Regions from separate parts of the Homo sapiens genome. Here region 1 is linked to region 2. Evidence: fine-mapped expression QTL. A gene starts in region 2. The other region holds a variant in brackets. All regions are shown on one strand. Distances are between the middles of the regions.

Region 1 (2,904 bases), 61 kb after region 2:
AGCTCCCTGGTTTGGGATGAGTACTGGCAGTGCCAATGTCAGCCACATTCAAGCCAGTGTTCCAGGGGCCTTCTCTCAGTCTCATGCTCCTGCTTTTCCTTGAGATTCTCCCCTCTCTTGTCCCCTCCCTATCTTGGCTCTCTACCCACCACCCCAACACCTCCAGCTCCCCCTCTGCTCCCCCTTTTGCTCCCCTGGACCTTCCTGGCTCTCGGCCTTCAACCCTCAGCCCTCAGCCCCTTTGGCTCTCAAGGTGGGGACCACTCCCACCTCTCCAGCCCTGTCTTGGAGCCCTGGGCATTCTGTCACTAGCTCTCTGCTTGGTCCTGTCCCTCAGGTGGCCTGTGGTCCTTTCACACTGGACATGCCTCAAACGGAGCCCATCGCGAGGGGAAGGGCTCTCAGGGACTATCTGAAACCTCGGGAGCTTCGTAGACCCCTCTACAAAGGGGAGCCAGTGGCCCAGCCAGTGGCTTTATTTTCCTAAGATACTGATTTCAACATGTCACTCCCCAGCCTTCTGTCTTGGATGGCAGCTCTTCTCTATGGGATGAAGGAACCCTCCTCGGCCCAGCACTGAAGGTCTTCTACCGTCTGGTCTCAGCTCACCTTTGCATCGGCTCCCACCGCCAGCCAAGCTGGATGCCCTCCCACCCCATGCCTCAAGCACACCCTGCTTCTAGGTCCTTACTCACAGGGCCCTTTGCTCAGTGGGAGTTTGCTGAGGGCCCACTGTGTGCGGGCGCTTTCCAGGGTGCTAGGCACAGAGGAGCAGCTGGCAGACTTACATTCGTAGAGCACACTCGGGTGCCTCTGCTGCGCCTCCCTGCACCTCCCCTTCCTTCCCTTCCCTCAAGGCTGGTCACCTATGGCCTCCACGACCAATGTCTCCCTGCTCCTTGGTCATTGGGAAGGTAAGCATACCTTGCCTTGTGTCTGATTGTTCTTTTAAATGAAGATTTCCATTTTTAACTATAGAAGTGACACATCCTCATTGTGAAAAATATGTAGAATGTGGAAAAGAAAGAAGCAAAAGAAGTTATATAACCTGGCTAAGAACATGGAGAAGCTTCTCTTAAAAAGAGGTGTCCTCAGCTGCTCGCCTTCCACACGCCTTCCTCACAGAGGAGGCAGCCTTGATTCCTGGGTGGGAAATGCCAAAAATGA[C/T]GGAATCAAAGCCTTTTCTGGAAGCGGGCAGAGATTTCTAGGGGTGGGGAAGAGAGAATATAGAACTTAAGAGAACTGAGCTCTTGATGGAAAGTGGGGGTGGGGAACACAGAGGGGAGGCCCAGAGACTGAGAGGTCTAGGAGAACGGGTTAAAACCGAGGCCAGAGCCCCGGAAAAGGAGCCCAGAGGCCCCAGCTCTTTCCCTACTTACTTACTGTATCTGTGTGACCTTAAGCGAGTCCCTTGGTCTCTCTGAGATGCAGTATTTTCCCAAGTGAACGGGCATTGCCACACTTCACCTCCTCAGGGCGTTGTGGGGACCTTCAAAGCCGTAAAGCCCTTTGTAAATGGTAACGCCTAACACAAATAGGAGAGCACGCTGCCCTCTCTGGGTAGGCCCCTCATCTGGGTCCTGGTTCCAGTCTGGTACTGAGCCTCTGGAGGACAAGGGTCACATTTATTCCAATTTCTCTTCTGCATGCCCCAGTGCCCACTGAGCACAGTGGGAATACAAACACATTTATTATGCACTCTGCATATGACTAGAAGGAACTTTGGAGCTCAGATCCACCCTTTACACAGATGGGGAAAATCAAGGCTCACACCACAAGGTGAGCTTGGTGGTATCTTTACAACTCCAGGTAGTGACAAAACCAGGATGCAGATTCTGAGGAATGAACGAGTGAGAGAATGAAGGGAAATGGGGCAACAGTCAGCATGAGCAAGGGCTGACCTATGGTGGGTCTTAGCCTTTACTGTGCTCAGTGGCCCCACAGCACCATCGTCTCTCCAAGGAGCACGGAAGCAGCCCCCCGTGTGGGGTATGGGCACAGACCCCAGGGCCCAGGCAGGCAGGGGATGTGCCAGTGGTCCTTGCCACGGGCCACCAGCTTTGCCACCCTGCTCCAGGGCCCTGGCCTCTCCCCAGGGTGCAGGACGCCACTCCCAGGCACTCTGGCTCCGTTTCTTACCAGGCTGCTCTGGGATGGCAGCATCCCAGCATCGCTATAAATAGCATCTCTCCTGGGCCCCAGACGGCCAGTTGGCAAACACTATAATTTGCTGAAAAGTTTGGAATGTGTCTAAAAATGAAGAAGGCAAATGAGACCAGCCATGAGGGGGAGCAACCGGCGTATCCATTTCAGAGAGGGGCTGAGCCTCACTCCTGCTTCTTGCCAACTTCTTTACAAGGGCACTGCAGGCAAAGCTTCAGGGAGAGGGGACAAATATGAGTCTAGGAAAGAACTATTGTCATTTCCAGCATCAGCTGTGGCGGCTACCTCTTGTATTGGCCTCACCCCTGACCTTCCTGTCCTAACCAAAGAACGAGAGGAACTGCCACTGCTTAACCCTTTGTTGGGCTGTGCTAATGAAATTGAAGGGAACATGGTGAGCATGCGAGGACTGTGAGAGCCAGAAAGAAACCCCCAAAATAATTTCATTCAATAGTTTCATCCAAACTCTCCCAGTTTGCAAATGAGGAAGTGACTTGACAAAGGCCGGGCACCAAGTTGAAGCAGAACCAGATTTTGGCCAAGGTCCCTGGGCTCCCAGCTGGGTGCTGGGCATTGGATCCCAGGCCTGCTGTGAGGGCTGGCTCTCTTAGGGAAAGGGGAAGGGTCCCATGGCTCTCCCATCATGCTGAAGGTTGACACCTGACAAGTCACTGCAGCTTTCCCTTGTTCTGCTCTGATTCTCATTCTACTCTAAGGAGGCACAGCCACCATTATCCTGAT
Region 2 (2,904 bases):
TTCTGTCTGGCTTGTAAAACTGTCAGAGCAGCTGCATTCATGTGTCGGATGATGGATGATGGAAAGGAGGACAGTCGGCTGCAGATGGACACAGCGACTTGCAAGTTGAGGCAGGTGGCAAAGGACTTGCAGAGGCTCTGCAGGTGGGGCATGCTGATTCATTGCCCAGTTAAAATACCAGAGGATCTGGGCAGCCTCTTCACAGGAGCTGCTTGTCCTCAAACAATCTGTCTTCAATGAAAGATTCCTCTGGCCTTCCTTTCTCTTCTTGCACCTCAGGTGTGAATCCTTCTCCCCCACGCCTCTACCTGCCCCCCCGCCCCCCGCCCCGGCCCTGTGTGGCTCATTATATGCAGGGCCAAGGCAGCATTTTCTCTTAGCTTCTTTGTGACCACTTGGTCCTGGGATGGCTTCATGGAACACATCCTGTGGTGTGCACCAATGAAGCTTTCCATACAGGACTCAAAACTGTTTTTGAAAAATGTAACCAGCTGGAAGACAAGAAAATAAAATGTCAGCACTAAAAACGCTGGCTGTGGCTTTTGCTAAGGAAAGGAATTTGGTGTTGTCTTCTCACACACACAGACTGGTTGGGGAAATGACTGTCTTCAGCACATCACCCTGCGAGCCACAGTGAGTGCCCTGGCTCAGAAGTGCCTGTCACAGTGCACAGGATCCCTGAGGAGCATGAGCTGGGATTTCCTCTGTGCTGTCCACCACAGGAGCCTGAGTGACCAGCGCATCCTCGATTTGTAACCAGAATCCTGCCCTCTCTCCCAAGCGGGCACCCTTGCTCTGACCCTCTAGTTCTCTCTCTTGCCTTCCAGAGAATACCAAGAGAGGCTTTCTTGGTTAGGACAATGAATGCTGAGACTTGTGGAGTTGGGACCAATGGGATTTCTTTAAAAGCATCTTTTTGCCTCTGGCTGGGTCTATGGGGGTCAAACAGAAACGCCTTGGGCCATTTGTTGGTGGGGTGACAAATGAACTTGGCCTGAGAAATGGAATAGGCCGGGCTCAGCCCCGCGAAGCACTCAGAACTGCACATTTTCTTTGTTGAGCGGGTCCACAGTTTGTTTTGAGAATGCCCGAGGGCCCAGGGAGACAGACAATTAAAAGCCGGAGCTCATTTTGATATCTGAAAACCACAGCCGCCAGCACGTGGGAGGTGCCGGAGAGCAGGCTTGGGCCTTGCCTCACACGCCCCCTCTCTCTGGGTCACCTGGGAGTGCCAGCAGCAATTTGGAAGTTTGCTGAGCTAGAGGAGAAGTCTTTGGGGAGGGTTTGCTCTGAGCACACCCCTTTCCCTCCCTCCGGGGCTGAGGGAAACATGGGACCAGCCCTGCCCCAGCCTGTCCTCATTGGCTGGCATGAAGCAGAGAGGGGCTTTAAAAAGGCGACCGTGTCTCGGCTGGAGACCAGAGCCTGTGCTACTGGAAGGTGGCGTGCCCTCCTCTGGCTGGTACCATGCAGCTCCCACTGGCCCTGTGTCTCGTCTGCCTGCTGGTACACACAGCCTTCCGTGTAGTGGAGGGCCAGGGGTGGCAGGCGTTCAAGAATGATGCCACGGAAATCATCCCCGAGCTCGGAGAGTACCCCGAGCCTCCACCGGAGCTGGAGAACAACAAGACCATGAACCGGGCGGAGAACGGAGGGCGGCCTCCCCACCACCCCTTTGAGACCAAAGGTATGGGGTGGAGGAGAGAATTCTTAGTAAAAGATCCTGGGGAGGTTTTAGAAACTTCTCTTTGGGAGGCTTGGAAGACTGGGGTAGACCCAGTGAAGATTGCTGGCCTCTGCCAGCACTGGTCGAGGAACAGTCTTGCCTGGAGGTGGGGGAAGAATGGCTCGCTGGTGCAGCCTTCAAATTCAGGTGCAGAGGCATGAGGCAACAGACGCTGGTGAGAGCCCAGGGCAGGGAGGACGCTGGGGTGGTGAGGGTATGGCATCAGGGCATCAGAACAGGCTCAGGGGCTCAGAAAAGAAAAGGTTTCAAAGAATCTCCTCCTGGGAATATAGGAGCCACGTCCAGCTGCTGGTACCACTGGGAAGGGAACAAGGTAAGGGAGCCTCCCATCCACAGAACAGCACCTGTGGGGCACCGGACACTCTATGCTGGTGGTGGCTGTCCCCACCACACAGACCCACATCATGGAATCCCCAGGAGGTGAACCCCCAGCTCGAAGGGGAAGAAACAGGTTCCAGGCACTCAGTAACTTGGTAGTGAGAAGAGCTGAGGTGTGAACCTGGTTTGATCCAACTGCAAGATAGCCCTGGTGTGTGGGGGGGTGTGGGGGACAGATCTCCACAAAGCAGTGGGGAGGAAGGCCAGAGAGGCACCCCTGCAGTGTGCATTGCCCACGGCCTGCCCAGGGAGCTGGCACTTGAAGGAATGGGAGTTTTCGGCACAGTTTTAGCCCCTGACATGGGTGCAGCTGAGTCCAGGCCCTGGAGGGGAGAGCAGCATCCTCTGTGCAGGAGTAGGGACATCTGTCCTCAGCAGCCACCCCAGTCCCAACCTTGCCTCATTCCAGGGGAGGGAGAAGGAAGAGGAACCCTGGGTTCCTGGTCAGGCCTGCACAGAGAAGCCCAGGTGACAGTGTGCATCTGGCTCTATAATTGGCAGGAATCCTGAGGCCATGGGGGCGTCTGAAATGACACTTCAGACTAAGAGCTTCCCTGTCCTCTGGCCATTATCCAGGTGGCAGAGAAGTCCACTGCCCAGGCTCCTGGACCCCAGCCCTCCCCGCCTCACAACCTGTTGGGACTATGGGGTGCTAAAAAGGGCAACTGCATGGGAGGCCAGCCAGGACCCTCCGTCTTCAAAATGGAGGACAAGGGCGCCTCCCCCCACAGCTCCCCTTCTAGGCAAGGTCAGCTGGGCTCCAGCGACTGCCTGAAGGG

Direction of the effects. Positions count from the first base shown, and alleles are read on the strand shown. Sizes are in standard deviations (SD) of each study's normalised expression.
In carriers of allele T in region 1, the expression in prefrontal cortex of the gene that starts at base 1,418 in region 2 tends to be lower than with C alone (moderate effect, 0.48 SD a copy in GTEx).

What was found.
Region 1: its variant is fine-mapped to the expression of SOST in prefrontal cortex (GTEx, PIP 0.96).

What each region holds. Positions count from the first base shown.
Region 1 is chr17:43,695,939-43,698,842 of GRCh38, reverse strand. All of the region lies in intron 3 of LINC02594 (long intergenic non-protein coding RNA 2594), which reads right to left. Among named protein-coding and RNA genes, the nearest start is that of LINC02594, 33 kb to the right of the region's middle. The variant C/T (reference allele first, on the strand shown) is at 1,168.
Region 2 is chr17:43,757,305-43,760,208 of GRCh38, reverse strand. It overlaps SOST (sclerostin), which reads left to right and starts at 1,418. Exons shown (of 2, transcript NM_025237.3): 1 at 1,418-1,687. The coding sequence starts at 1,468.